Linked DNA regions of Homo sapiens: region 1 is linked to region 2. Evidence: fine-mapped expression QTL. A gene starts in region 2. The other region holds a variant in brackets. All regions are shown on one strand. Distances are from middle to middle.

Region 1 (4,522 bases), 470 kb before region 2:
AGAGCATTTGCTCAAACCCTTCATGAATTCTTTTCAACCCTTAGACATTTCAGTCCTTCTGACAGTAATCACACCTTTCAGCTACTGAGTTATTTAACCTGAGATTCAGAGGCCTGTCCCTAGAGGAAAATGATGGTTTCAATGAGGAGCGTTTCTTAAAGCATTTTGCATTTTATTTCTTACTCCAATTTTCCAAGTGCTTCTGTGTATAGAAATTCCTACTCTTTCCCTAAAGCGTTGTAGTCTCCTTTTTACTGAAGAGAAATTAAAGTGCAGGGCTGGTGGCAGGGCCCAGAGCATAGAAAGTATCTTCAGGTGGGTCCGGGCATGGGTGTGGCCCTAGGTCACAAACCCTGGCCCTGTCCATCCTCAGGTATTACTGCCTAAAGGAGGATTGAGTGGTAGCTGAACTACAAGGACAAACAGGTTTGGTTTTTTTCCTGTTTAAGAATGAAATGCAGTCGGGCACTGTGGCTCACACCTGTAATCCCAGCACTTTGGGAGGCTGAGACGGGTGGATCAACTGAGGTCAGGAGTTTGAGACCAGCCTGGCCAACATGGTGAAATCCCATCTCTATTAAAAATACAAAAATTAGCCAGGCATGGTGGCACGCACCTATGTCACTGCACTACAGAGAGACGCTTTGTCTCAAAAAACAAAACAAAAAAACCGAAATGCTTCCTGGCAGAGTGGAGTCTCTCCTCCATCCACAGTGGACTCTCTTTATTATGACTGTGATGTGTTTGGGGTGCACAAGCTGGTGTCTTCTCCAAGGTTGCTGAGGAGCATTCTGGAAACACAAGTTGATTGTGAAATCCTCCACAATTCCTCACAGCATGGTATCACCCTGTGAGAAATGTAGGGATCTAAACCCTGCAATTCACAGTGAGTCTGCTGAAGCGTTGGACAAGGAGACTGAGATTTAATCTTCATTCTCCACTAATTGGCACTGTAATGTTCCCAGAAGTCATTTCTGCTCACTGGGTCTCAATTTTCTAATCTATAAAATGAAGGGTTGAAGTAGATCACTGTTTCTCACGCTGCAGGGTATAGACATATTTTTGTGAGCTGTGAGGTCTCCTCTATAAGAATTTTTTTTTCTAAAAAAAAAATTATTTTTCTGAGATGGAGTGTCGCTGTTGCCCAGGCTGTAGTGCAGCTCACTGCAATCTCCACCTCCTGGGTTCAAGCGATTCTCCTGCCTCAGCCTCCCAAGTAGCTGGGATTACAGGCGCCCGCCACCACACCTGGCTAATTTATGTATTTTTAGTAGAGATGGGGTTTCACCATGTTGGGCAGGCTGGTCTCAAACTCCTGACCTCAGGTGATCCACCCGCCTTGGCCTCCTTAAGTGCTGGGATTATAGGTGTGAGCCACCGCGCCCAGTCTTTTTTTTCTAAATTTTTAATTTTATTTATTTATTATTTTCTTTCAACTATCTCCCCCAGGAAGGATTATTTATTTTTTAGAGACAGGGTCTTGCTCTGACACCAAGGTTGGATCATATGACATGTGGTGGCATGATCATAGCTCACTGCAGCCTTGAACTCTGGGGCTCAAGCAATACTCTTGCCTCAGCCTCTCGAGTAGATGAGACTACAGGCATGTGCCACCACACTGAGCTAATTTTTTTATTTTAATTTTTTTTAGATATACTGTCTCCCTATGTTGCCCAGGCTGGTCCCAAACTACTGGCCTCCAGTGATCCTCCTGCCTCAGCCTCCCAAAATGTTGAGAATTACAGGTGTGAGCCACCACGCCCGGTCAATCCAACTTTTTAATTCAAAAAAGTTCAGACTTACAGAATAGTTGCAAAAATAAAACAAGAACATTTACACACCCTTCACGTGGATTCACTAATAGCATTTTGCCACTCAAGTCTATTCCCTTCTATTGGTGTTTTCTTTTTTTTGAGACGAAGTCTAGCTTTGTTGCCCAGGCTGGAGTGCAGTGGCATGATCTCGGCTAACTGCAACCTCTGCCTCCCAGGTTCAAGCGAGTCTTCTGCCTCAGCCTCCCAAGTAGCTAGGACTACAGGCATGTGCCACCACGCCTGGCTAATTTTTTGTATTTTTAGTAGAGACAGGGTTTCACCATGTTGGCCAGGCTGGTCTCCAACTCCTGACCTTGTGATCCACCCACCTGGGCCTCCCAGAGTGCTGGGATTACAGGCATGAGCCACCACGCCCAGCCATCTATTGGTGTTTTCATGTTCATGAAAATGGGCCAGGTGCAGTGGCTCATGCCTGTAATCCCAGCACTTTGGGAGGCCGAGATGGGCAGATCACAAGGTCAGGAGATCGAGACCATCCTGGCCAACATGGTGAAACCCCATCTCTACTAAAAATACAAAAATTAGCCGTGCGTGGTGGCACAGGTCTGTAATTCCAACTACTCGGGAGGCTGAGTCAGGAGAATTGCTTGAACCTAGGAGGCGGAGGTTGCAGTGAGCCAAGATCGTGCCACTATACTCCAGCCTGGGCAATAGAGCGAGACTGCGTCTCTAAATAAATGCATGTAAGCTTCTATCTGAATTATAGAATAGAATAATAACACTGAACCCATAGGGCTACTGAACGAGGGCTACTGCCCGCACTAGGGCTTGGGGGTCTGCTTGTGTCTACCTTCCCTTTGGTGTCAGGCAGTACTGCTTTAATTTTCATGAGATACCCAGAAAGGAAATGAAGAGGTCTCCACAATATCCACATCAAATAATATCATGAGG[C/G]CCCACATAAATGAAGGTTGTTCAGTAATTTTAAAGGGAAAAGGGTGTGGGAAATTTGAGTTCTTTCTCATTTCATACATTTGCAACATAGTAAAGGCATGTCAAACGCACACAAAAACTTCTCCAGAGAAGTCATTTTCATATTGATGTTACCAGTAGCACTTAATTTAAGCAAAACATCATTTGGGAAATTAAATTAATATTATTAAATTAAATTTTAGTGGTTTGGGAGGAATGCTTTTACTGACTTTGTAAATTTGTCTTATTATACCTGTTCAAGAGCTATGAGCATAAGGAATTTATAATAACGTTGGTGCAGACTTGAGCAGCACTGTAATAAAAGTAAAACTGAGATCATGCTAGAATATCACTGGGGAGACTTGCACTCATCTTGTTTGTAGACAATGGACCAGAATAAGTTCAGATGTGCCTCAAGAGGGTCAGGCAGTTGAAGTATAACCATTTTGTTATATTGAGATTCTATATAGGATTTTGTTTGGAAAATGTTTGAATATCACCTGTCTAGATTAATTTGATGAATCCATTCATCTTTAGCAACTAAACCAATTTATTTTCACTGACAACAGAAAGTACTGGTAGCTGCAGACCATCTTTCATCCCCATGCCCTTTGACATTTCATTTTCTCTTTTTTTCTTCATTATTATTATTATTATTATTATTAGTTTAGACAGGGTCTTACTCTGTCACCCAGGCTGGAGTACAGTGGTGCGATCATAGCTCACTGCAGCCTTGACCTCCTGGGCTCAAGCAATCCTCCCACCTCAGCCTCCCAAGTAGCTGGGACTATAGGCACCTGCCACCACACCTGGATAATTTTTTAAACAATTTTTTTTTTTTTTTAGACAGAGTCTCACTTTGTCACCCAGGCTGGAGTGCAGTGGTGCGATCTCGGCTCACTGCAAGCTCCGCCTCCTGGGTTCACGCCATTCTCCTGCCTCGGCCTCCCGAGTAGCTGGGACTACAGGCACCCGCCACCACACGCAGCTAATTTTTTTGTATTTTTATTAGAGACGGGGTTTCACCGTGTTAGCCAGGATGGTCTCGATCTCCTGACCTCATGATCTGCCTGCCTTGGCCCTCCAAAGTGCTGGGATTACAGGCGTGAGCCACCACACCCGGCCTAAAAAATTTTTTTAGAGGTAGGGTCTTGCTATGTTGCCCAAGCTGGTCTGAAACTCCTGTCATCAACTGATCCTCCCATCTCGGCCTCTCAAAGTGCTGGGATTACAAGTATGAGCCACCACAACTGGCCTCTCTTTTTTTACTGTGTATGACATGGAGTTATGTGGATATACATGTGTATTAATCAGGGTTCTCCAAAGAAACACAACCAATGGGATGTGTGTATCTATATGTATATCATCTATATCTATATCTATGAGAGAGAGATTTATGTTAAGGAAGTGAGTCACACAATCATGGAGGTACAAGCTCAAAATCTGCAAGACAGGCAGCAGGCTGGAGACCCCGGGGCAGTCTAAATCCAAAAGTCATCTGCTGGCAGAACTCCTTGTTGCTCAGGGGAGGTCAGACTTTATTTTATTTTAGTTTTTGAGATAGGGTCTTGCTCTGTCACCCAGGCTGGAGTGCAGTGGCACGATCTCGGCTTACTGCAACCTCTGCCTCCTGGGTTCAAGCGATTCTCATGCCTCAGCTTTCCAAGTAGCTGGGATTACAGGCGCATACCAACATGCCCAGCTAATTTTTTTTGTATTTTTAGTAGAGATGGGGTTTCACCATGTTGGTCAGACCAGTCTCGAACTCCTGACCTCAG
Region 2 (4,224 bases):
CAGGCACATGAGATTTCCCAATCTCATCTTTGCAAGCAGAGCTCATCAGTACCACTCTCTCACTATAAAGAACCACCTCAAACCTGAGAACTAGTACAGGTTCATGAGTTACCCCTGACTGGGAGAGTTAAATTAAGCATTCCTTAGCTTTTTCTACTTTTTCTTTTCTAAAACTTTATACAATCACTTTCTGATGCAACTCAAAGCAATGCAGATAACAATGGTTAGGATCAAGACCACCAGGCAAAAACAATCTAAACTCTAATTTGTGAGCAAAAAGTAGAATCAGAGCTAGAAAGGCTATATATAGTCATCGCAAATAGGATGACTTTCCCACGCAAGAGGTTCAAAAGTATTCCATTTGTCATTTTGCATGCAGCCAATTCAATAAATAGAAACCAGAATCTTATCAGATGGGAGAGGAAGTGAGTAATACCAGAGTTTTGATTTTTTTTTTTAAGTTTCTTAATGGAGGCTTTACACAATGGAAACAGGACTACAAAGACACTTTACGGTTTACATATATGAACTTTCCCACATTCACGAACCTGAAATGTGTCCACCACTCGGTGAAGAAACTCAATGACAAACAGAGGGGGGACCTCCGTCTGGATCACGGCCACAAAAAAGATCTTGTGGCGGTAAACACTTAAGAGATAGTGGTGAGGGGTAGGGATAACCGGAGGCACATTTTCTGCCTCAGTAGCTCTCTCTTGCGCCTCAAAAAAGTAATCACAAACAGAACGGCTGACCACACTTTTCCAATGTTTCTCCAGGAAAATGTCTCCAGAGGAGTTGATCAAGAAAAGACTATGGATCATGGTGGCGATTGTCAGTGACAGAAGAAAGCCTTTTTCAGTCTGAAAGCCTCAGGACTCTGTAAGTTTTCAACTCTAAAAACAAAAGCAGCGATATTCAGTTCCATTCAACCAAAAGGCCCTCCCCATCTTTTCCCAACAGTCCAAGACTTACCCATCTTTCAAGACCAGGCCCAATCTTCCCCTCCTGCATGAGCCTGAAGATAGCCCTCCCTTGAATTCGAAACGATAATGATCAGTCATCTGACTGTCAATCATATACTCCCAGTTATCTTTACTATCGCCCAAATTGCATCCATTTAAAATACTACTTATCTGTGGGTGTCTATTTTCTCAACCGAACCGCAAACTCCTTGAAGAAAAGGGCCGTGCCTCATGTTTTGCGTTGCCTGACTGCAACACAATCAGTGTTCTTTGAAGAGGGCTTCCAAGAACACTGAATTTGATGTCATGTTTTGGCAACAGCTCACACATACACAAGAAATGCGCAGCTTAATACGATAGCCACTATGGGACCAGCGAGCACTTGAAAGGTGGCTGGTGCGGACTGAGGTGTGCTGTTAAGTGTAAGACACACGACAAATCTGAAAGGCTTTGCATGAAAAAAAAAATTTCAAATATCTTACCAATAATTTAATATTGATTATATGTTGTAATAACATTTTGGATATCCTGGGTTAAATCAAATATATTAAAATTAATTTAACCTGTTTTATTATTTTAAAGTGGTTACCAGAACATGTACAATTACATATGTGGTTTGCTTTCTATTTCTGCCCACCAGAATTGGTGGGAGGAATGGAAAGCTGCCCTTGGGGGTCTTTATTCATCCAATCAGAGCTATTCTCTGAGCACTCCTTAGGCACTTGTTAATGCAGTAAGACATTTAAAAAGATCCCTTGGGGCTCCCGCCTGTGATCCCAGTACTTAGGGAGGCCTCCGCGGGCAGACCGCTGGAGCTCACGAGTTCGAGATCAGCCCGGGCAACAGAGGGAGAACCCCGCCCCCTCCACCTCCAAAAAAAAAAAAAAATTTCCCTGGGGGACAGACACCCCAAGGCCCTCAGACGGTTGCATCTCTCTGGTGCCAGTCGCCAGGATGTGGCCATTCCGCGAACCGGCGCGGGTGGTCAAAACGCAGAGGCCTGCGGTGCCCAGCGCCGCCTGGAGGAGACAGCAGGAGGGAGAGACAGCCAGGCAGCCCGGGGTGCGAGGGAGAGGCAGCGGCCTAGGCAGGCGGTCCCTGCGCAGGCCCCGGCCCAGAGCCGGCGGCGACGGAGGCCGCGGGGCGCAGGCGGGCAGGGGCCTGGCTGAAGGGGCACGCGCGTTCCGGGGTGAAGAGCGCAGGGGTGCCGGGCCGCGCCAGCGAGCGCACGTGCGCTGCCATGGCAACAGTGTCCCCTCCGCCCGCAGCCGCGGCGCCGGGAAGGACGCCCTCCCCGAACTCTGAACCCGGCCCCTCACCTCTCCCCGCCGCGTCCGCAGCCCTGAGAGGCCGCCCGGCTGCATCCTGAGACCCCGCCCCGACCCTCGCGCGCCCCCACTCCTGCCCCCTCTCCAGGCTCGGGGTCGTCCCTACTCCTCACCTGGCCTTGCTGCTCTCAGCGCCCACTGCTCCTAGGCGCGGACAGGCCCCGCCCCGCCCGCCGCGCGCGCTGAGGCAGCCGCTCGCCCGCTGATTGGCCGGCCCGCGGCCTGGCTACCGCTCCGCCCACGATCTGCGCCTGAAGGCCGCTGATTGGGTATCTGGGAGCCGCTCCTCCCCTCTGATTGATCGCTGTTGGCGGCTTGCCCTGTTGTCGGGCTCGAGTCCCCCGATTGGCCCTGTTGAGGCCACGGTCATCTCCGATTGGTACAGCTCCGAGACCCCGAGTCCTGATTGGAGGTCGAAGACAGTGCGTGCTGCTCGGCCCCACTCATCCAGTCACAAAGGGCTGGGGCGGTCGCCGCGCTCGCGTGTTTGCGGAGTGCGCCTGGAGGGGGCGCTGGAGTATGTGTGTGCCGGGGCGGGGTGGCTTCCGGGCACGAGTTGCTGACAGCGCCTCGCGGTTGATAAATCCTGAGGGCGGCGGCTACCCTGCACTCCATCGGTGCCTTTGGGAAGCGCCGCCTTCTCTGTTGTACCCGGCCGTGGGTCAGGTCGGCGCGGCTGGCGGTGGAGTCTCGGACACCGAGCCCTGGACCCCGACTCTGGAAGCCCCCAGCCCCACTGGGCCGCGGCAGGGCGCCCACCCTCCACAATCTCAGTTCCCAGCCGGGGAGTGAGGGGCTGGGCGGGTCTCTCCACCGCTTTGGAGACCTCAGGACTTGGATACGCTTTTGAGTGGTCCCAGTCGTCCTGATCCACGAAGGCGTGGAGTGGAAGTCAGGACCAGGGGTCGCCCCAGTGACGCAGGAAGTCAAGCCCAGATGCGGTGAGGCGTCGCCAGCCTTGGACCCAGCAGTGGGCGCTGGTGACAGTGGCGACCTCGCCGATGAGAGGTTCGCCCTCCCTAGCATTAGTTGTCACTTTGGTGAAATGGAGCGTGGGTGGCAGCTCCTCCACACACAAGCCCTTTGCTGAGGTGGTGCGGGGGGTTCTCTCCACGCTTGCTAAGGGCAGGTAGTTGGCTGACTTTGAACTATGAAGAAAAGCCAGAAACAAAATGGCAGAATGGTATGACTCTGGGTGGGCTTAGGGACGCTGGTGCCAGAGGACTTGGCTTGAACCCGCTCCAACACTTACAACCTGAGTGACCGTGAGAAAGAACTGTAACTCCTCTAAACTTCAAGTTCCTCACTTCTCAAATAAGAACGTGAATAGTACCTCCCTCCTAGAGTTGTGAGGATTGAGTTAGAAAATGCTAGCAATTGTTATGCCCTAAGGAACAGCACAAGATACAATAACACGTGATAATGTGTGTCGAAGGTGCAGAAATGCAGTCGCTGCCGTGAGAATTTCTCATTCATTCACTGAATTAACATTTGCCGAAAACCCCCACGTATCGACCTGTGCTGGATGCTGGAGATGCTGCAATGACTGCTGTCACAGGCATTGTCCCTGTGGTTACAGGGCCCAGCAGGAAAGACAAATGAGAAGCAAGGGATTGCAATGCAGTGTGATGAATAAGGAACGCATAGGGGGTGGGAGGAGTGCTGTAGAGATGGCTGACCTAGAGTCAGGGAAGACCCTCTACCTTGAAACCTGAAAATGAGAAAGGATCCCTCAAATGCAGGGATAGATGGACAGAGAAAAAAGTACATAAGGAAGGCTCTGCAGATGAGCAAGTTAAGTATAGCTGAGCTGGAATGGTAGGAAGAGCGCAGGGAGATCAGGCTGGAAAGGTAAGTAGGGAGCCTAGTGGTTGTGAACCTTGGAAATGTTAATATTTATAAAACACTGTGTGCCATACACTGTGTTTTATAAT

Evidence for each region. PIP is the estimated chance that this variant, and not a neighbour inherited with it, causes the effect. A credible set is the group of variants that fine-mapping cannot tell apart.
Region 1: its variant is the best candidate, but not a certain one, in a credible set for the expression of AP3M2 in spinal cord (GTEx, PIP 0.74).

The regions. Positions count from the first base shown.
Region 1 is chr8:42,622,853-42,627,374 of GRCh38, reverse strand. No RefSeq gene overlaps it. Among named protein-coding and RNA genes, the nearest start is that of CHRNB3, 72 kb to the left of the region's middle. The variant C/G (reference allele first, on the strand shown) is at 2,727.
Region 2 is chr8:42,151,285-42,155,508 of GRCh38, reverse strand. It overlaps AP3M2 (adaptor related protein complex 3 subunit mu 2), which reads right to left and starts at 2,446. Exons shown (of 9, transcript NM_006803.4): 1 at 2,404-2,446; 2 at 549-893. The coding sequence starts at 821. RefSeq lists a silencer at 1,931-2,540 and an enhancer at 3,371-3,490.